Linked DNA regions of Homo sapiens. The protein of the gene in region 2 purifies or fractionates together with the protein of the main gene of each other region. This does not show direct contact. Each region holds a gene or a part of one and is shown on either strand. Other genes may lie near its edges.

What was found.
Region 1: the proteins of CPVL (region 2) and CAPZB purify together in Homo sapiens (affinity purification with mass spectrometry; 3 studies listed by BioGRID and IntAct, with this or other methods). This does not show direct contact.
Region 3: the proteins of CPVL (region 2) and CYB5R3 purify together in Homo sapiens (affinity purification with mass spectrometry; 3 studies listed by BioGRID and IntAct, with this or other methods). This does not show direct contact.

The regions. Positions count from the first base shown.
Region 1 is NC_000001.11:19,342,189-19,349,637, forward strand, and holds part of CAPZB (F-actin-capping protein subunit beta), read right to left. Parts: intron 3,065-7,449; coding exon 2,999-3,064; intron 2,247-2,998; coding exon 2,170-2,246; intron 677-2,169; coding exon of another isoform or gene 574-676; exon of another isoform or gene 564-573; intron 1-563. UniProt on the Homo sapiens protein: F-actin-capping proteins bind in a Ca(2+)-independent manner to the fast growing ends of actin filaments (barbed end) thereby blocking the exchange of subunits at these ends.
Region 2 is NC_000007.14:29,066,355-29,073,803, forward strand, and holds part of CPVL (probable serine carboxypeptidase CPVL isoform b precursor), read right to left. Parts: intron 6,112-7,449; coding exon of another isoform or gene 6,070-6,111; coding exon 5,947-6,069; intron 5,551-5,946; coding exon 5,419-5,550; intron 1-5,418. UniProt on the Homo sapiens protein: May be involved in the digestion of phagocytosed particles in the lysosome, participation in an inflammatory protease cascade, and trimming of peptides for antigen presentation.
Region 3 is NC_000022.11:42,632,042-42,639,490, forward strand, and holds part of CYB5R3 (NADH-cytochrome b5 reductase 3), read right to left. Parts: intron 4,806-7,449; coding exon 4,674-4,805; intron 1-4,673. UniProt on the Homo sapiens protein: Catalyzes the reduction of two molecules of cytochrome b5 using NADH as the electron donor.

The DNA of each region.
Region 1 (7,449 bases), on a different chromosome or scaffold from region 2:
TCCAGCAGAGCATCTGGGCCAGCCAGGGTGGAGTCCAGCCCTGACTCTGCCCTCCAACCCCAGAGACTCAGAGATCAGAGAGTGAGGTCACCCCTTCCAAGCCAGCTAGCCCTGGACAGGCAATGTGCCGCTGAGCAGCGGGGAGGCTTATGTGGCTTCTGGGATCCCTGCACCAGCATCAGAGGCTCCTCTGAAGCATGGGGGGGTGGACGGCAGGCAGATCCCTGCCCTGGGGACAGTCAGGCCGGTGCACACAAGTGGCTGCTGCTGGAGAGGCAGCATCCGTCCCTTGGCCTGGGCTTCTTCAGAAGCAAAAGCCAAAAAATCAGCCGTCTTCCCCACACCCAGCCTCCACCCAGAGTGGAAAGCACACACACGTGATAGGTGCCGTGTTACATGGGGCCGAGGCTACACGGGAATGTGGCTGTGCACCGACCGGGAGCACACGTGGGGGTTAGTGGTGGTTTAAATGGCCGCGGAGCAGCAGCCGGACCGGCAGGGTCTCGGCGGGTTGGTGAGTCCTGTTTTAGTGGGGAGGGTCTCGCGGCTCTCAGGCAGGGTACCTGGATCGGCTTAATTATCAGGCTGGATGTAGATCTGGCGCTGGGTCAGCACTTGAGAGAGCTCCCTCTGCAACTGCTTAAACTTTTGGTTGTCAGGGATAGCATCAATAGATCTACAGAGAGTGTTCAAGATGAGTGGAGTGGGAGGGAAGAGAACGACGAGAAGCCAGGAACGCAGGGGGCCACAGCTGAGGAGGAAATTCAGGGAGACCCACGAGGCGGAAGGGGGGATGCCGTGGCGGCTCTGGGGTGTGGAGTGGTATCGCCGCTGCAGAGGTCCACGCTGGCGGTGGTCGTGGTATTCAGGGGCTCGCCACCACCACCCGCAGGCTCTTCGGCTTCTCTCCCCCACTTCCCAGCCACTGCCTGGGGACTGTGCAGGTTGGCTGGGCGGGAAAGTGTGTTTGGTGTATCGGGCAGTGGCTGCCAGTGGCAGGCCTAACGCCAGGGACCACTGGGCTCTAACCCTGTCACAGGTCACGAAGACCAAGCCTCCCCCAGGTGGGCAGGGGATCAGAAGACAAGGGTCCAAAGAGGACTCCTCCTCTGTTTTAAAACTGTAAAGCAGGTGACTGAAATCTGTCGCCCACCCCAGTCCACGAGCTGGGGCAGCCCCGGGACTGCAGCCTGCCTCTCCTCTGGGCTGGGCTGTGAGAGCTACACCACGGCAGTGGGTGAGAGGGCTGGCCGCTAAAGGCATAGCACAGCCCGACTCACACGGTGCTGCTGGACTGCAGAGCGTGTTCTAGATTCATCATCTCAGCCGACCGTGCCTCCTCGACTGGACAAGGGCCTCTGCGAGGAGTGCCAGAGGCCATGCAGCTCGGGATGACAGAGCTTAGGGGAGATCCCGGCCTCCTGACTCTCCTGACTCCAAGGCCAGTGCTCCCTCCACAGCCGTTTACTGCCCCCAGCTGGGCTCTGGCCTCATGTCAGAGGCCTGCCTCCTGCTCTGTCCGCCGTGGACCTGGAGGGTCCAGAGAGCGCCCGGCTTTTGTTTGGGCTGACACTGCAGAGCTGAGGGCACGAGGTGGGAAGGATGGTGCAGGACACTGGCCACTGGCAGCAGAGCCCTGGCAGAGGACGTCAGAGAGGCTGGGGCCCCCTGAGAACGCCCAGGCTGAGGGCCCTGCCTGCATGTGGCGTCAGGGAGGCTGGGGGCCTGAGAAGGCCCGGACTGAGGGCCCTGCCTGCACGTTGCGCTCTGCTGTCTCGGAGAGCAGGCCAGCCAGAGGCAGCCGGGCTGCCCGGAATGTGGTGTCATGGCTCCCCTAGGCCCAGGCTGGAGGGTGGGGAGATTTTTGAGCGGGGACTGACAAACTGCAGGGCTGAGGAGGCTCCGGGGGCAAGGGCACCAATGGCTGTTAGGGTGAACATGCCCCAGAAAACAAATGGTGCAGATAGGGACCGACAGCTGCTACGGAGAGTGCAGATGACACATCAGGACTTTACTTTCCAAAATCAACATAATGATCATCCCAGAAGAGGGGCACTGCAGCCTACCAATGAGGACACCGAGGCCCAAGACCACACAGCTAGTAACTGGCAGAGCCAGGGTTCAAATCCCTCTGTCTGCTTCTAAAGCTTGTGCTTTCTGGTACATTACCTCAGCCCATTGACGATATCCTTTGTTTTTCCAAAGTAGATCTCGTTCAGCGTACTTCTGATTTTATTTTCCATGTCCTGGAAGGGAGGTCGGTCAGCGCAGTGGCAAAAGGTCAGGAACCCTGAGGCCCACGCCCTCCCTCCACCTGCCAGCCCTGCAGTCCCCAGTGTGGCCACTGGAGGGTGGCACACGCCTGCTCTGGGGCATCAGTGAGCGCGCTCCAGGCTGCCAAGACCCCACCTGCCATCTGTGCTCCCGGCACCTTCCCATCCACAGTCCACAGGCAGGGAGGAAGCCAGTACCCAGGGATTGGCGGCCAGCTCTGCCCATGCCTGGGAGCTGCTCTAAACCACATCACCACCCCTTGGGCTCCCCACTAATTTTGTGAACAATTCTGTGAAACCCGAGAGCACCTCCCTGCCTTCCCAAACAACGTGGTGACAGGAGGGCCAAGGCAGCCGCAACTGAAGCCACACCAGGGCCCACTGGCATTCCTGGGATCTGCTTCCTCTCCCAGCGCAGGGCCCTGTTCACACCCAGGCGATCAGGGGAGACAAGACCTAGTGCGCCCCAGAGCCAGCGCCTGAGCAGTCTTCTGGGAGCCCAGGTCTGGGGGTGGAGCAGGAGGTGGCCCTGAAGCTGGAGCCTGCTGGCATCCAAATCAGAGGCTCCAAAAATATGAGGCCAGGGCAAAATCCAAGAAGCGCTCTGCCGGCTGCGGTGGAGCTGAGAGAAAGCAGCAGAGAAGGAGGCCAGCACAGCGGCTCCGGGGCTGCAGTGTCACTGCTGTGGGTCACTGCAGGAGCCAGCCAGAGCCCAGGTCACTCACCTCTACCAGGCGCCCGATGTTGGCTATGTGTGGGGAGCAGTCACTCACAGTTTCATCCTTCTCCATCTGCAAAAGACAGAAACATTCCAAGTCAGAGAAAGCCAGAGATTTCTGAGAACGGCAGACAGCCCACCCCACCTCCACGGTCTGCAAAGAGCCTACTGTTCCCACCGTGGAGCCAGCTGCAGGTATGACAAGGCCAGTTTTGCAGCCTGGGAACTGAAGCACAAACCGACTTCAGTTTCAGACCATAAAGAGCCCAGAGGGCAGAAGCCCAGAGTCCCACTTCCAAGGGAGAAGATTTTGCTGCTGCCCATGGTAGAGCAGGCAGATGCCCAGAGCCACAGCAGCAGCCCTTGGCAGGCACCAGCTCACCCGAGCCAACTGGAGAAGACTCACTCGGTTTGTCTTCAGGCCTCTACTGGCAGGCCCAGGCCCACGCTGGGCCATCCACCCCAGGTTCAGGGCCTGACACTGCAGGGGAAGCTTCTGTGCTGCTGCTGCGCCCTGGCGCTCCCAAATGGTGGCTTTGGGGTGCCATCTGCTGCAGTCTCGCAGGGAGGGACAGACAACCTCTGACGGAGACTTCAGGCCAGAGGGATTCAGTGGCTCACCCTAGTCATGCAGGTGGCAATGGCAGAGCCTGGGTCAAACCCTTCCTCGCACCAGGGCCTGTTCGTTCTACTCTGCGAGGAGAGTTTGAGCAAGAGAGTCTCAATATAGACTCTGAGGTTATGAGGGGGGCAGCAGCACTCAAGCCCCATCTCCTCTTCCCAAGCCCAGGAAGAGCTGGCTCTGACCCAATCATCTCAACTCGGAGGAGGGAGGAAATGGAGGCAGGTTAGGGTAGAAGGAATTCGGCACTTTCCCCCGAATTTTTTCTTATCTGAAGCCTTATTTCCCTGACAAGAATATAAATTCTTTCAGGAGAGATGTGCCTGCCTCATAACGCACAGGGTACCTGGAAGAGTGCTAGGAACATAAATGCTCAACGTTACTACACTGAAAACAGGAATACGCAGCTACGATGACTAATGTTGTTGAAATAAAATGTGGAAGCTGAAATAAATAATCAAGAAAGAGGAAGAAAAGAACAGCATCAGAAAGGGTAGAGTAGAAACCATGCAAGAAGTGGCCATCAAATTATAATACAAAAATGCAGTACTCTAAGGCTAAGCATTTATTGTTGAGATTCTAAATCTGCTTAGACATTATTTATAATTTTTGAAGCTTTATTAAAATAAAATAAAATTTGTGAGAGAAGCTAAAAAAAAAAAAAAAAAAAAAAAAAAGAAAGGGTAGAGTTCAAAATGAGACCAGGCCCACAGAAGAAAAACCAGCAAAAGGTGGGTTCCTCTCTTTGGAACCAGGAGAACAGGGTGGAGTCTGGGGGGAGATACTGTCTCAGAGGGTACGGGCTCTGTTGCTTCTCACCTATTTCTACATCTCCTCATCAGGGAGACTGACTTTCAGGCTGTGAAAGGTGGAACCAACCTGGTTAAGAGCGGGGTGAGCAGAGGGCAGGAGAGAACCAAGCCACTTTAAACGACCAGGCTTCCAGGGTCGGGCAAAACCGACCTGTGATTGAAATCCTTGACACTGGGGGCGGCAGCACTGACCCGACTTTTGTCTTTTTTTTTTTTTTTTTTTTTTTGAGACGGAGTTTCGCTCTTGTCGCCCAGGCTGGAGTGCAATGGTGCAATCTTGGCTCACTGCAACCTCTGCCTCCTGGGTTCAAGTGATTCTCCTGCCTCAGCCTCCCCAGTAGCTGGGATTACAGGTGCCCACCACCACGTCCGGCTTTTTTTTATTTTTATTTTTATTTTTTATTTTTAGTAGAGACAGGGTTTTGCCATGTTGGCCAGGCTGGTCTTGAACTTCTGACCTCAGGTGATCCACCTGCCTCAGCCTCCCGAAGTGCTGGGATTACAAGTATGAGCCACTGCACCTGGCCGACCCAACTTTTGTCAAAAAAGGAAGAATGGCCTCTGCAAGGAAACGCTAGCTCGAAACTGATCCAGACAACAATTTTTGATGGGATCGTTAAAATCATCTGCTGGCACATTTTAAACTCAGAGATCATGAGGAGCCAGCCAGGCTCACTGTGAACAAGCCCTGCACGAGAGCACTTCTTTTCCTGTTTTGGTGGGGATGCTGGGCTGGAAGAAAACACAACTACTTAAATAGGGTCGCATCCTTCTGGCAAGTTCCCATCTACCATCCTGCACCTGTGGCTGAGAGGAAGGGCAGGATGGAGCCTCTGCCGATAGGGGTAGGGACCTGGCCACATTTCCACAGCCCCCCACCCACTCCCCTCCACACCTGGTCAGGGTCAGCTCGCTGGCAACACCGACCCACCAAAAATAGAACCATTTGTGCACTGCATACACTATGTGGCACCCTGTAGCAGTCTCTGCCTGCCCTTGGTCAACTTGTTTGTCCAGGACTTAAGTAAAGGCCCAGCTGAGAGAACGACCAGCTTCCTATCGACAGTGTCAAGGGTTGAGATGGTCACAGGGTTAATACGGAACCCGGAAACCTGGGCTAGCTACAGAACGAGAGCAGCAACTTGGAATGGAGCCAGGCGGCAGCCACCTTTTTCCATCTCAGCTTCCTAGGAACCCTGTTTTAAACCCAAGGAAACCGAAGCTTAAAGAAGCAAGAATCATACAGCACTGTTAGATTCCGACGCCTTTGCTCCTCCTACTTCACCACGCCAGTTAAATGTACCAGGGCAAATGCAAGCCAGATATTTAGGCTCAAGGGTGCATTTCATGCAGTACAAAATGGGGAACTGCTGACTTGCAAACAGTTCCTATGAAGAGACTTGTGGTTTTTAGATAATTTCAAGTTTGACAAGGATGAGATGTCGCTACTAGGAAAGCTTTTGTGCAACTTTAAGGTGCACAGATGACACTATTCCTTGTGCCCAGATAAGGGGCAGCATTCCCACCCCATCGCGTGATGAAGACACTGCAGCTGCCAGTTTCCATTGCTTGCTTGGGAAGGCAGTGGTTACCCTCTGTTCTGTCCTGGCCCAGCTACATCTGCAGGGCTGGATTCAGTTTAGGGCACTTTTTTTTTTTTAATTTTCTTTTAAAAGACAAGGAGGTCTTGCTATGTTGCCCAGGCTAGACAGGAACTCCTGCAATCCTCCCACACAGCTGTAACTACAGGTGTGTGCCACTGTACCCTGCTAAGGCACTGGGTTTTAAAAGCCTTGAATGAGTTAGCATTCATCTGCTTAAAAGGTCTGAACACCCTGACACCAAGAAATGGGAGAGAACTAGGGCTATCCAGGCCTGGCGGTGGTGGGTGGGGAGGGATGTGTGTGTGCTAGGGGAGACACAAGAGATTCTGGCAGGGCTCTGAAGGCCTGCTGTCTGCCAGGGGAACAGACCCAACCTATGTCGCTGTAGATGGCAGAGGGGGGACCGAGCAGTGAGAGAACATCACGGCTCACTGGGCTGGACTCGGTCTGTTCTGATAGAGCTGTCCCTGACAGGCATCTGCTCACAAAGCAATGTGGTCTGGGAGACCGACGGGTCTGAGAAAACGGGTGGCATCTGACAAGGGGGGGGGGCGGTCTAGGTGAGGGCAACAGTCCAGAACCTGCTGCCTCCCAAGTCATAACAGTAAATATCTGCAGAAAAAAGACATCTGGTTCTGGCAAGGCTGTTTTACTGAGGACTAGTGGAAAAGAGGGAGAGAAATGCTAGAAAGACCGGCTTCTCTGCTCCCATCTGTCTTGGCATGCTCTGGCAAGTCATCCTGAGGAATCTCGACCCTCAGACCCCAGGGGGTCTCCATAAAACAGGAGTAGTGAGAGTGCCCATGAGCTTGAGAGTCACAGTTCTCATTTCAGGTCTAATAAACACACCAACCTCGGCAGCACTGGAGCGTCTGCTGGAACATCATCTTTATCTGCCACTAGCAAAACCCTGGTGCCAAGACGACGGGGTGGGCTGTCTGCTCAACAGGAGCTGGGGAGCACCCTCAGGAGGGAGGGGGCTCCATCCACCCAGCTTCAAAAAGAACTTTTGCATGCTGGCCCCCGGGGACTGTGTGTTCTCCCAGACGTGAAGGTGGTTACTGTGCCTAGGCTCAGGGCTGGGTGGAGTCAGCTCGGCAGGCAGGGAAGCCTGGGGGTTGGATGGAAATGAATGAGGTCCTTCCAGCAAATCAGAGTCTCTCCTCCTCCCCGGCTCCATGTGGACGGCAGATTCCCGGCCACCCTAGGGAAGGGATGAGGGTTTTGAGCTCACTGTGGGCCCCATTTTAAATGGGCACCAACAGCCCAAAGAGAGGCCGCGGCCATCGGCAAAGGTCCTGGGTCACCTGGGCAAGTCCAGTCACATCAGCAATTTGGCCTCTTGGTTACCATCTTTGTGTTTCAGAATCAAGAGCCATCTTAAAACAAACAGGCGAAACCCCTTGGCCAACAAAGGTAG
Region 2 (7,449 bases):
GGACAACAAGCATTTCTAAGTAAATTATATCATATGGTAGACAGTGATAAACTCTTGAGTATGTTAGGGAATGACAAGGAGAAAACTAAAGAGGAGTAGGAAGTGTCATGTGTGTGCATGTGTGTATGGGACAATGTAGAGAGGAGGTCACAGAGGACCTCACTTAGAAGGTGGCATTTGAGTAAAGACATATTGGATGAGAGGAATAGAGCCATGCAGACATCTAGGGGAAGGAAGGTTCCAGGCAGAGGACACAGTAAGCTCAAAGGCCTTGCCTATGGGAGTAAGCCTTGTGGGAAGGGTGCCTTAACATGGATCATGAACTGCTCACCAGATGACATGGAGAGAAGACGCAGGATATGGTGCAGATGCAGGTTCCTGGAGCTGGTGGAAGTTATCTTTGGGCTGACATTAAAAAACCCAGTCACCAGCTGAGCGGGAGAGCAGTCAGCATGGTTGCATGCTTTCCTCCAGCCATTGTCAGCTGTGTGGAGACAAGCACAGCCTGACAGAGAGGCAGATTGAGCCAGGGCTGTGGTTCAGCCAAAGGAGTTGGAAGAAATGCAAAAGAGCTTTGGGCTTGGAAATGTATGGAATGACTGACCCTGGGTTGAAGACAGGTAATTAGAGAAATGGAGACTTGAGGGGGTTAGAGATAGTGGAGAGGCAGGAGGATCAATGGATTGAAAGGTAGTGAGGTTGCAGGGCTGTAAGATCAGTACATTAGCAGAAGAGATTCGGACAGGAGGTGGTAGTTGGAGAAAGATGTTTGAATGTGTGATTGTGGATCAGCTGCCAGCATTTTAGGGTATGAGAATCAGCAGCTAAGATGAGGAGGAGAACAAGATCATTGAAAAAGAGGAGGCTGAGGCACCAAGGACCAGGTCCCAAAAGGATCGTCAATGTGGATCCTGCAGTTACCAGGAATTATGACAAGAATAATGCTGCAGAGAGTGACAGGGAGGAAGGAGCTCAGCTATTCAAATGAGAGGGAGTAACCAGGGGTTGGTAGGCAGACACAGTTGGAAGTGGTCAGAGGCCCTGTCTGAGGACAGGAGAGTCAAAGCTCAATGCTTTAGGAGGAGGCAGGGAACATGATCTGAAAGTCACATGATGAGCAAGGAAGACACCTACTCCACCTATGAACCAAGTGATACAGACAAGCTAAGAGAGAGAACAGCCCCCACTCAAGAGGACCACAGGGACTGCAGCATCAGGGGAGAGCCAGGTTTCTGGCAAAGCAAGAAGATGAAGAGAAGAAAATAGTCACAGAAGAGGTTGAAGACATGGAGGGGGGTTGTTGATGATGATATTAAGTTGTAAGGAGTTCTTACAAAAGAATTCAAAGAAATGAAGTCAGCACATGTTAAAAACAATCTATCAAGTACAAATTTAGGTCTCTTATCAGATAAGGTATTATTATTCTAATTTTATGGGTGAGAAAACTGAGACACATGAGTTTAAGCAACTTGCCGAGGACACCTCACTAATAATGTCAGAGATGAGATGATTAGGCCACGACTCCTGAGCCTGCACACTCAACCACGCACACACTGGCTCCCAGCAGTCAGCCTGCAATGCTTCCTACTTGCCAATTCCTTCTGGCCATGCTTCAATGCTTGAGAAAATAGACTAATTATTATATTCATATTCTTTTTTTTTTTTTTTGAGATGGAGTCTCGCACTGTCACTCAGGCTGGAGTGCAGTGGTGAGATCTCAGCTCACTGCAACTTCTGCCTCCCGGATTCAAGCAATTCTCCTGCCTCAGCCTCCCGAGTACCTGAGATTAAAGGCGCCTGCCACCACGCCCAGCTAATTTTTTTTTGTGTGTGTGTATTTTTAATAGAGACGGGGTTTCACCATGTTGATCAGGCTGGTCTCGAACTCCTGACCTTGTGATCTGCCCACCTCGGCCTCCTAAAGTGCTGGGATTACAGGTGTAAGCCACCGCCCCCGGCCTGTATTCATATTCTTTTTCAAACATGAAAGAACTTATTCAAGTTCCTATTGCCATGGGGCTAGAGGCCAAGAATGAAAAGGGTTATCACCATAGAAGGCGGTGTGGGTGGAGGTGGTAGTAAGTATTCTCTACCAATGCTACCATTGCTCAGGGCCCCACATCTGGTTGTGCAGCTCCATGCGATGCCTGTGGCTAAGGGGTGCAAAGGGACAGGGAACCAGCCAAAGTTCTGCTCGCTGAGCTGGAGAGCCTGGCTCAGGGCTGCATCTGGAGAAGTGGCCACCTCTTATCCTCACACAATGGAGGCATCTGCCTGCCCCGTCCTGAACCCACAGGACTGCATCACCACAGAGGAGGTGTCTTTTTCTTTTTTTTTTTCTTTGTTTTTTTTTTTTTTGAGATGGAGTCTCGCTCTGTCACCCAGGCTGGAGTGCAGTGGCGCGATCTTGGCTCACTGCAAGCTCCGCCTCCTGGGTTCACGCCATTCTCCTGCCTCAGCCTCCCGAGTAGCTGGGACTACAGGCGCCCGCCACTACGCCCGGCTAACTTTTTTGTATTTTTAGTAGAGACGGGGTTTCACCGTGGTCTCGATCTCCTGACCTCGTGATCCGCCCGCCTCGGCCTCCCAAAGTGCTGGGATTACAGGCGTGAGCCACTGCGCCCGGCCGAGGTGTCTTTTTCTAATTTGTTCACCCAGATGGGGCACCATAGGCCAGGGTCATTCTGAATGCACACATCATTTTTGGAACTCATTGTTAGAAATTATCTTCAACACCAGTGGGAATATAAAGTCAACCTTGAAGAATAACTTTGCTTTTAGAAAGAGTTAAAAGTCATTTGTTGGCCAGGCATGGTGGCTCACAGCTGTAATCCCAGCACTTTGGAAGGCCGAGGCGGGCGGATCACTTGAGGTCCGGAGTTTGAGACCAGCCCAGCCAACACGGTGAAAACCCGTCTCTACTAAAAATAAGAAAAATTAGCCATTCGTGGTGGCGAGTGCCTGTAATCCCAGCTACTCGGGAGGCTGAGGCAGGAGAATGGCTTGAACCTGGGAGGTGGAGGTTGCAGTGAGCTGAGATCTTGCCACTGCACTCCAGCCTGGGCAAGAGAGCGAGACTCCGTCTCAAAAAAAAAAAAAAAAAAAAGAAAAAGTCAGTTGTTGTCAAAAAATAACATGGGTGGTCAAGACCTGTGAAACTAAGAACTTTGTGATTCAGAAAATCATCATGGAAAGGGAGGTAATACTGGACAGAGGATCAGTCATTTCACATCTTGCAGAATATCTAAGACGATCCAGGATTTTTACAGAATGCCTGAAAATTACCATAGGATAAATACTGTGGTGGAAATGGGGGAAGCAATTCCAGTCCTCAGCCTGCCACAATCTATTTGTGTATCCTTCGGCAATTCATTGCTATCCCCTGGGGCTCGGCATCCTCTCCACTCACCAGTAAATGTGTGTGTGTGTGTGTGTGTGTGTGTGTGTGTGTGTGTGTGTGTGTGTGTGTGTGTGCATGTAAATGCATAGGGACAGTAGATGACCTATCTCCAGAGTACTCTCCAGCTCTGAGTTACTACTCTTTGATTAATTAAATCATTTTAAAGGATCAGAGCGTCAAACAGGCTTTATCATTTTAGGCTTGAGATTCTGACATTTATATTCCCCTGGGTTTCAGGATTTGTTGGAGTCTTCCTTTGCAGTCACTGAAACACATTTCAACCACAAGTTGTTTACTGTCCTAAGTATCATTTTATCTATTTTCCTTGAAAAAGCAAAGGTCTTGTTTTAATTCATCACTCAAGATACGGGACCAATGGTCAAAAAGACATTCCAAGCCTTCAAACGTTTTACCTGCTTGGGGTTCCGGTTTCTGACGTATCCGGTTTGGGAGAGATTCTCACCTCGTGGGTCATGTTCTCATTATCTCTGAATACACAACACACCTGAACTTTTCTACAGCTTCACTAATCCTGTAGGTGTTTAGCCTGCTGCATTATGTACCAGTCATCTTTCTGCTTTTTTTCTAAATATGGGCCTCTCAAATGCTCTTGCTCTTGACAATTGCTTTATCCTGTGTGCTTCTTTAAAAACATATCAAATGTTTCAATTGCAAATTGGTCTCATGCCACATAAAATTTGGTATTAATTCTAAATACTGAAGTTTCACTCCTTCGTCCCCTCTGTGACTACCACAGCAGAAAGCCTTGAAAATACTGTCATTGCAAGTGGAAGCATGATCCTACATGTGCCCCAGGAGACCCCTCTTCCTTTGTGTTTACAATTGCATAAGAAATTCTGAATCCACACTTTGCAGCCACATTTAGTGTCCTGACACAGAGAAAGGAGAGCCTGGTGGAGCTCTGTAGGATGGCTCAGGACTCCCTTTGCTCCATCCATTTGCACAGCTAGCTGCTATCAGAATTCACGGCAAGGGCGGTCACTGCCTTGGGGGATTTCTGATAGTGTCCCAACACCCTACTTGTAAAATGAAAAATAACTTTGTATTATCCTCTACCCTTTTCTCCAAGGTTGCATGTCTCCTATTTTGATCTGAACTGGCTGATCTGCAATGCCCTTAAGACTTAATATCAGATTTCTGCTTTAATAACAATAACGACATTAGATATACTGTTACAGAATATGTGTCTAATAACAAACAAATTAAAGCCCTCGAAATTCAGACCTTGCCTCATTTACTACCATGTCAAACATGATGGCTGTATAGTAAATACGGCAAAAAGCCCCTCAGGGAGATTGTTTACACATGGCTCTGTCTGCATTGGCAAAAAAAGCAAAAAAAAACAAAAAAAACCCAACTTCCTGTATCCTAATATTTAGTATATTCTTACATTTTAAATAACTGAGAAAGAAAAGAGTGAAGAACGTAATTATTGATTCTCAAGTTTAATTTTAGGGGAGCAATGAAAGGATATGCACAAATACCAATGGCCCTTTGTAAGAGTTTCAAATTACTACACTTTATAATCTTTGTTCCTGACACGTGTGTCACATGTCATCTGTTACACACTGTGGTCATTTCTCCCAGCTGAAACCCTGTTTGTGGATATAAAACTCTTCTACATGGTTTAGAGCAGATGGTGAAGCATATGCCTCTACTTCCTGGGTTGCCTTTCTTCTGATTTCCATATGATAGAGTCTGCCTTGAGGGCCTCCACAGCATTTAAAGAAATCAAAACGGTTAATGAAAGACACAGTTAGATAAACACTCCAAGATGATCTCAGGCTTAAAATATAGCCAAAGTAAATTCAAAGGAACACAGACAGTCCTTTTCTTCATTATGAGGCCACTCAACTCGCCTCCCGATCTCCAATGGAATAACAGATATACCTTCTTAACAAAAAAATGCCTGAGCACCAAGGTGTTCCTGCTCACCCGCCCTCCCTCCCCAGATGGTTTTAATTGCTCAAGGGCAGCACAGGGCCCCCAGAACTCACTTCAAAGGCCTCAAACCAGTTCTGCTTCCTGATGTGTTCTATGCATTCATGGCACTGCTTCTGGAAGTACTTTTTTTGCTTCTCATCCAACAAGCCAATTTGGTACAGGAATTCTGCATAGCCCCCTATAATCTGAGGACAAAAAAGACACACATCAATGTGACAAAGGGAGAGAAAGAGACCTTAAGGAAGCCCATTTGCTTGGTGAAATAATCCTTTGTAATTGTTAATATTGTGCTGGTTAGCCAAGTAGGATAATTACATGCACACACACATATACACCCCACAACACACACAACAGAACACAACACAATACAAACACACACACATTTGCACTGACAGCCAATGTAAGCTGACACAGTAAATTGATACGTTGAAACATTTGGTAAAAATTAGGAGATTTAAGTCATAAAGTCAACTGGTGTTTCCCTTATCAAAAGTTAGACCTCTAAGAGGAGCCTTCCATCTGATAAAAAGGCATTTAATCCCCCTAAGAGACAAAATAGAAAGTCAGAAGGAGAAACCTACTGATTCGGGATCAGAATATCCATCTCCAATAGCAATTCCGTTCAGGTTGATCTTCACCTCTCTCACAGGGTTGAGGGAATGGATGAGGTGTGCAATGGCTGGCACATATTTCCCTGCATAAGACTGAGAAGGACAGATGTTGAAATGGCCAATCACAAATGGATGCTAGTAAAATTAAATGTACTTAAGCTAATTAAAATAACAATGAAGGAGCAATCTTTCCACATGAGGTATACCATCTGTTTCTTAACCCCACATTATAGATTCCATAATAGCAAAAACCTCTGTCTTCCAATTCTTTTGTCGTCTCAAATAGCACCACATGACATGAACAGGTTCGATGCACAAAAAATCACAAGTGAACATGTAATAAGTGAACATTCTAATTTCCTTCCAAAATAAAATAACTTGGGAGAACACAATTCTGCCATGTGTTAGGCATCTCTTACCAGAAAGCTCTATTCAAAGATTAGAGGGAAAAAAATCTCAAGTTTAAAATTAAGATTTCAAAATCTGATAATGCTGCAAATTTTGAAATCAACATGTACTAAAGGAATAGGAGAAGCAGAAAAGGAAAATAATATTTATTGGCCACTAAAATTTTCACTTGAACTCATCTCTATTTCCAAACTTTTCCAGCACAAGGTCCTTTTTCAAGGTCAGAATATTTTGTAGATATATTTCCCCTAACAAACATGGTAACGGTTCTACTTTAAGACTGTGCTGGAAGAGCTACTATTGACTCAGCAGTATTTTTCAAATAATTTTGCATTTTGCATTCTTTCCATCAAAAGTTGCCTTCTTGATATCTCCACTTGTATGTCTAATATTAAACTGCACATGTTCAAAATAAAGCTCCCAATCCCCAACCCTGAGGCAGCCTCCCTTTCATCTCATGTTAATTCTGTTTCTCCCCTGCTCAGGCCAACAATCTTGGTGCCATTCGTTATATCTCTCTTTGTCTCGTATTCCACAGAAGTCAATCAGCCAAGCTTGTCAGCTCTACCTATTCTAACAAAATCTGTCCAGAGTCCAATGTCTTCTCACAACCCCTTCTCCATCACATCATCTCTGGCCTGGATGACTGCAGTAGACTCCTCATTGGCCTCCTTCTTTTGCCCTTATCCTTTAATGACTTCCCATCTTCCCAAAAGCAAAGGCATAAGGGCTGACATGATCTGCTCCCTTCTCTACCCTCAACCCCTGCCACCCTCTCGCTCATTCCTTTCCAGCCCATTGGGTTCCATGCTATTCCTTGCACATACCAGGCACATGTCTGCCAGGCCTTTGGACCAGCCATTCCCTCCACCTGGAATGCTCTTCTCACAGGCCCCCATATGGCAAATTCCCTCAATGTCCTATATTTTTTCTTTCCTAAGTATTTCCTTAATACTTATCATTCTCCAACAAACTTTTACTTACTTATCTTATATACTGTTATTCTCCTACCCATACTAGAATATAAGATCCGTGAATACAGGGACATTTGTCTGTTTTGTTTAC
Region 3 (7,449 bases), on a different chromosome or scaffold from region 2:
AGGGCATGGTCAGTGGCTGGGACAGTGGCAGAGGAGGAGGGGGGCTGGCTAAGAGCCAGATTGGGCCAGGGAAGGAGCTGAGACTAAAACCCCTGAGGTCTTGTTAAGTGGGTCTTACGCTCAGGCCAGGGACGATCACATAATCAGTTCCAGTCGGAGCTGGAACCAAACCCAGCGTCCTGAGGGTGCACTCCCTGTGGGGTCCCCAGTACCCAGCATGGCCAGGAGAGGGAGTGTGAAGAAGCCATGCGGAAGGTCGGCGCTGCAGAGGCGCTTACATCCAAACGTGGCAAAGTCCACATGTGGATGGTGTCATCACTTAGAGGGGGACAACAGACCTCTCCAACAGGGCAGGACATCACAGATGCCCATCTCGGCTCAGTACGAGAACTCTCCGACCTGAGCAGTGTTCCAGCACAGAGCAGCTGCCTCAAGGAGAGACCCGTCCCTACACGTGTGAGCAGAGGCAAATCGCAGGAAAGACGGTGCAAACGCCACTCAGGATCAGGTGTGCAGGGGGCCCACCAACCTCTCCCAGGCAGCCCAGGCCTCAAAGCTGCCTCTACCAGAAGCTTCTGCATTAGGGGCAAACAGAGCCCCAAGGCCTTCTGGAAGTGGATTCCAGGACTATCAACTGGTCCTAAGGGTCAAGGTCAGACACCCATGTACCAGAAAATATTTGGAGGAAGAATAGAAATGAGATGGCCAGGCGTGGTGGCTCATGCCTGTAATCCCAGCACTTTGGGAGGCCGAGGTGGGCGAATCATCTGAGGTCGGAAGTTCGAGACCAGTCTGAACAACATGGAGAAATCCCGTCTCTACTAAAACTACAATGTTAGCCAGGCGTGGTGGCGCATGCCTGTAATCCCAGCTACTCAGGAGGCTGAGGCAGGAGAATCACTTGAACCTGGGAGGCAAGGTTGCAGTGAGCTGAGATCGCACCATTGCACTCCAGCCTGGGCAACAAGAGTGAAACTCTGTCTCAAAAAAAAGAATAGAAATGAGGACAAGAGATGAACAATTATGGTGCTGGCCAACCTCTAGTAGGGCAGCAGGGTGGGGCAAAGCACAGAGCACCCAGAGCAGGCCCGCTGCGGACCCCGCAAAGCCACCATGGGCACAATGAGGGGGCAAAGCTGCAATCCTAGGACATCTGCCACATGCTCCCTTGTGTAACATCCCTATGATGAAATACTAAAAGGATCCATGTTGTATGGCTGGCTACAAAACCAGGTTATCAAAAAAAGAAACTGAGTGTGCACACACCCGCACCTCCACACACCCGTGTATGAACGTGATACCCACATAGGGTCTGGCAGGCTCACGCTGAGCTGTGACCTGGGCCCTCTGCACGGGGCCCTGGGATGCGGCAATGGGGCAGGGGTGGAGGTCATACCTTACAGAGTTTTTGCTGTGAGCACATATAAATCATACATTATTTCTGGAATTAAGAAACAGTAGGGTCAGACGTGGTGGCTCATGCCCGTAATCCCAGCACTTTGGGAGGTCGAGGCGGGCGGATCACCTGAGGTCGAAGTTCGAGACCAGCCTGACCAACATGGAGAAACCCCATCTCTACTAAAAATACAAAATTAGCTGGGCATGGTGTCGCATGCCTATAATCCCAGCTACCTGGGAGGCTGAGGCAGAAGAATCACTTGAACCTGGGAAGTGGAGGTTGCGGTGAGTCGAGATTGTGCCATTGCACTCCAGCCTGGGCAACAAGAGCGAAAGTCCATCTCAACAACAACAAAAAGGAACGACAGTAACAGAGCCAGGCATAGTGGTGCATGCACATGGTCCCAGCTACTCAGAAGGCTTGTGCCCAGGAGTTTGAGGTTGCAGAAAGCAGCCTGGGTGACAGAGCGAGACCTTGTTCTAAAAAAACACAAACAAAAACAAAACAACCCACCAATAACAATAACAAGGGAAAATACCGTTAAAAAACAGGTTTCAAAATGTTATTATTTCATTTGGGTAAGAAAAAAACATGTGTGCCTGCTTACATAAGTATAAAACATATCACAGGGCCAGGCACGGTGGCTCACGCCTGTAATTCGAGCACTTTGAGAGGCCAAGTCGGGTGGATCACCTGAGGTCAGGAGTTCGAGACCAGCCTGGCCAACATGTTGAAACCCTGACTCTACTAAAAATACAAAAAAAAAAAAAATTAGCAGGGCGTGGTGGTGGGCACCTGTAATCCTAGCTACTTGGGAAGCTGAGGCAGGAGAACCGCTTGAACCTGGGAGGCAGAGGTTGCAGTGAGCCGAGATCACACCATTGCACTATAGCCTGGGCAACGAGAGCAAAACTCCATCTCAAAAACAAACAAACAAACAAAAAATCATATCGCAAGGTTAAGTGTGGTCTCATCTGGGAGGTGGTGATTTACTTTTTTTTGCTTTTTATTTTTTATTTTTTTGAAACAGAGTTTCGCTCTTGTCACCCAGGCTGGAGTGCAATGGTGTGATCTTGGCTCACTGCAACCTCTGCCTCCCAGGTTCAAGCGATTCTCCTGCCTCAGCCTCTCAAGTAGCTGGGATTACAGGCATCTGCCACCACGCCCGGCTAATTTTCATATTGATTGATTGATTGATTGATTGAGACAGCGTCTTGCTCTGTAGCCCAGGCTGGAGTGCAGTGGCACGATCTCGGCTCACTGCAAGCTCCACCTCCCAGGTTCACGCCATTCTCCTGCTTCAGCCTCTGGAGTAGCTGGGATTACAGGCATCTGCCACCACGCCCGGCTAATTTTCATATTGATTGATTGATTGATTGATTGAGACAGCGTCTTGCTCTGTAGCCCAGGCTGGAGTGCAGTGACACGATCTCGGCTCACTGCAAGCTCCACCTCCCAGGTTCACGCCATTCTCCTGCTTCAGCCTCTGGAGTAGCTGGGACTACAGGTGCCTGCCACCACGCCCAGCTAATTTTTTTTTTTTTTTTTTGAGACGGAGTCTTGCTGTCACCCAGGCTGGAGTGCAGTGGCGCAATCTCGGCTCACTGCAAGCTCCGCCTCCCAGGTTCACGTCATTCTCCTGCCTCAGCCTCGCCAGCGGCTGGGACTACAGGTGCCTGCCACCACGCCTGGCTAATTTTTTGTATTTTTAGTAGAGATAGGGTTTCACCGTGTTACCGGGATGGTCTCAATCTCCTGACCTTGTGATCCGCCTGTCTCAGCCTCCCAAAGTGCTGGGATTACAGGTGTGAGCCCAGCCACGCCCGGCCAATTTTTTGTATTTTTAGTAGAGACAGAGTTTCACCGTGTTAGCCAGGATGGTCTCGATCTCCTGACCTCATGATCTGCCCTCCTCGGCCTCCCAAAGTGCTGAGATTACAGGTGTGAGCCACCACGCCTGGCCTAATTTTCGTATTGTTAGTAGAGATGGGGTTTCACCATGTCGGCCAGGCTGGTCTTGAACTCCTGACCTCAGGTGATCCACCGGCCTCGGCCTCCCAAAGTGCTGGGATTACAGGCATGAGCCACCGTGCCTGGCCAATAATTTACTTTTCATTTTGTATTTTTTTGCTTCTCTCTGGTTGTCAACTTCTCTGTGAGCTCCTGGGACAATTACAGACACTTGCCCCAACAGTTACAGGAAACGGCCAGCTCCGTGCCATGGAAGCCTGAGATTCCTGTGAAGCCTGAGTCAGAGGCACCAGGCACAAGCCCAGGGTGGAGACTTGGGCCCTGGCAGATGATGTTCTCTGCTGTGACTCAGTTTTCCCTGCCACACCCCTCCTGTGCCTGCTGGGGGTGGCCAGAAATAGAGCAAGGGAGGGGCTCTGAAGAGGGCAAGTGACCGATGGAAGCAGCCTTTACTGGGGGCAAGGCAAAAGAGGGAGAGGATGGTTTTAAATCATAATCAGAGCTTTGAAAAAAAGGAGTCAGGCCGGGCACCACGGCTCATGCCTGTAATCCCAACACTTTGGGAGGTGGAGGTGCGGGGATCACTAGAGCCCAGGAGTTTGAGACCAGCCTGGGCAACAGGACGAAACCCCACCTCTACAAAAAATACAAAAATTAGGCTGGGCGCGGTGGCTCACGCCTGTAATCGCAGCTACTCAGGGGGCTGAGGTAGGAGAATCACTTGAGCCTGGGGAGGCAGAGGTTGCAGTGAGCGGAGATCGCACCACTGCACTCCAGCCTGGGACACAGGGCAAGACTCTGTCTCAAAAAAAAAAAAGTATGAACTCACTAATGAAAGAAAGTAAGAATCAAACAGGGCAGAGGAAGCCCACACAGCTCAGAGCACCCAGGGAATCTGCACAGATGTGAAAGGTGTCCAGGTCCAGTAGTACCAGGCTGTGGGGAATGACTCTGGGGGAGGGGGAGGAGGGAGGAGACCTTATCTTCAAATCTCTCACCCCCTGCATTCCTACCCCATAAATGGGGGATTGAACCTAAAAGTTCTGAGGGGTTCCTTCCATTCTGACCTTGCATGAGGCAGTGAGTGTGGTTCAGAGAAGGGGCTCTGTGGACAGAGAGACCAGGGTTTAAATTCCTCTGCTACTTCCTGGTGGCCTTAGCAAGAGACATCACCTTGCTTTCTCCATCTGTAAAATGGGTGGACAACAGTATCTACTTCAGAGCAGGACCATGCCCTGAGCACAGAGTAGGTGCTGGGCAATGCTGTGATGCTGACGAGGCAGCGGCGGCGGCCGGCACTCACCTCCCGGTCGATGAGCCGCAGCGGGTACTTGATGTCCGGGCTCTCGAGGGTGATGGCTGGCGTGGAGCGCTGGAACAGCTTCATGAGCAGACTGTACAGGAACCAGACTGGGAAGAGCACCATATGGCCCAACTGAAACGACAGGACCCGCGGGGTCAGTGCAGGAGCCTGCCTTTCCCCAAACACACCGGCTTGTCCACACTACCAGGCCTCTGCTCACGCTGCCCCCTCTGCCAGGAGCACCCTCTCCCCACCACCCTCATCCAGAAAGCTTCATCATCCATTTTGGTGCCCACTAGGAGAAGCTATAAAGACCAGCCTCATGACACCTGTCACTGAGCATTACCTGGGCTTCTATGCTCAGTACCATGAGAAAAAGCTCCATTTCCTCTGAAGAGCCAGGACCAAAAAGAGCTGTGGGTCTAAGCACATATCCTTTTTCACTTTGGCTACTAGGAAGCTCAGAGTAAAATTAATCTTGAGCATAATGTATTTGTGCTCCTTCCTTCTCTTGCTTCCTTCAGTCAACTTCCCTGGTCTTATTAAGTGATGTCAAGTTCTAGCTTGATTTAGACAAACAGACAAATAATAACCCCAACTCAGAATCTATCTGAAAGGCCTACACTGACCAAATGGCTCTATGGCACCTTTAAATCCAGTCCCTTGGGGCCACTGGGATTGATGCTCTCCTCTTTGCTCTCCCACAGAGCACACTAGAACAAGCCAGTGAAGCTGAGTAAACTGAGCCACTTCCCCCAAATGACATCCATGAGTGTCCCTGAGCCCTGGGGTTCTGCCATCAGGTGTAAGGGGAAGCGAAGCACTGAGCCAGGCACTGGGAAGGTCACTGGCTGTGTGACCCCGAGAAAGTCCCTTCCCCTCTCAACCTGAGTGGACCAGGTGATCTGCAAGGCCCCCAGAGCTGAGACCCTACAGCTCAGATCACCAAAGCCAACAGCCTCTGGGATCCCAGGGCCACGTCGGGTACCACACGGGCACGGCTCTCGCAGCAACCCCGTGTGGTAGGCACTGTCATCACCACCATTTCGCAGATGAGGAAACAGCCCAGAAAGGCAAAGCGACTCACCCAGTCACACAGCTGGCAGGTGAGGAGCTGACCCAGAGTCCACCCATCCCTTATACCACGCTGGGATACCTCATGACCAAGTGGACCCTGCCACACGGCCCTGAGGGGCTGTTCCTCCCCAGCCCCTGCCCCCGACATCTCAGTCTCCTGAAGGCCCTAAAAGGGGGCTGGGCATAGTGGCTCCAGCCTGTAATCCCAACACTCTGAGAGGCGGAGGCAGGTGAACAGTTTGAGTCCACGAGTTCAAGACCAGCCTGGGCAACAGGGTGAAACTCCATCTCTACAAAAAATATAAAAAGTTAGCTGGTTGTAGGCCCGGTGCAGTGGCTCACGCCTATAATCCCAGCAATTTGGGAGGCCAAGGTGGGTGGATCACCTGAGGTCAGGAGTTCGAGACCAGCCTGGCCAACAGGGTAAAACCCCATCTCTACTAAAAATACAAAAATTAGCCGGGCGTGGTGGCAGGTGCCTGTAATCCCAGCTACTTGAGAGGGTGAGGCAGGAGAATCGCTTGAACCTGGGAGGCGGAGGTTGCAGTGAGCCAAGATCATGCCATTGCACTCCAGCCTGGGCAACAAGAGTGAAACTCCATCTCAAAAAAAAAAAAAAAAAAAAAAAGTTAGCTGGTTGCAGTGTCACACGCCCGTGGTCCCAGCTACTCAGATGGCAGAGGCAGAAGATTGCTTGAGCCCAGTAGTTCGCGACCAGCCTGGGCAACATAGCAAAACTCTGTCTCTGTTGAAAAAAAAAAAAAAAAAGACCCTAAAAGTTGGTTAGAAAACCTGAATCCCTGGGCGGGCACAGTGGCGCATGCCTGTAATCCCAGCTACTCAGGAGGCTGAGGCAGAAGGTTGCCTGTGGAGGAGGTTGCAGTGAGCCAAGATCACACCACCACACTCCAGCCTGGGAGACAGAGCAAGACTCCATAAAAAAAAAAAAAAAAAAAAAAGGCCGGGCGCGGTGGCTCACGCCTGTAATCCCAGCACTTTGGGAGGCTGAGGCGGGGGGATCATCTGAGGTCAGGAGTTCAAGACCAGCCTGGCTAACATCGTGAAACCCAGTTTCTACTAAAAATACAAAAAATTAGCTGGATGTGGTGGCGCATGCCTGGAATCCCAGCTACTCAGGAAACTGAGGCAGGAGAAATGCTTGAAGCTAGGAGATGGAGGTTGCAGTGAGCCGAGATCGTGCCATTGCACTCCAGCTTGGGCAACAAGAGTGAAACTCCATCTCAAAAAAAAAAAAAGGCCAGGCGCTGTAGCTCACACTTGTAATCTGAGCACTTTGGGAGCCCAAGGCAGGCAGATTACTTGAGGTCAGAAGTTCGAGACCAGCCTGGCCAACATGGTGAAACCCCGTCTCTACCAAAAATACAAAAATTAGCTGGGTGTGGTGGCAGGCTACCCCAGCTACTCAGGAAGCTGGAGCAGGAGAATCATCTGAACCTGGGAGGCGGAGGTAGCAGTGAGCTGAGATCGTGCCACTGCACTCCAGCCTGGGTGACAGAGCGAGACTCTGTCTCAAAAAAAAAAAAAGTGGGGGGGGACCGGGCACGGTGGCTCACGCCTGTAATCCCAGCACTTTGGGAGGCCGAGGCAGGTGAATCACCTGAGGTCAGGAGTTGGAGACCAGCCTGGACAACATGGAAAAACCGCGTCTCTACCAAAAATACAAAAATTAGCCAGGTAT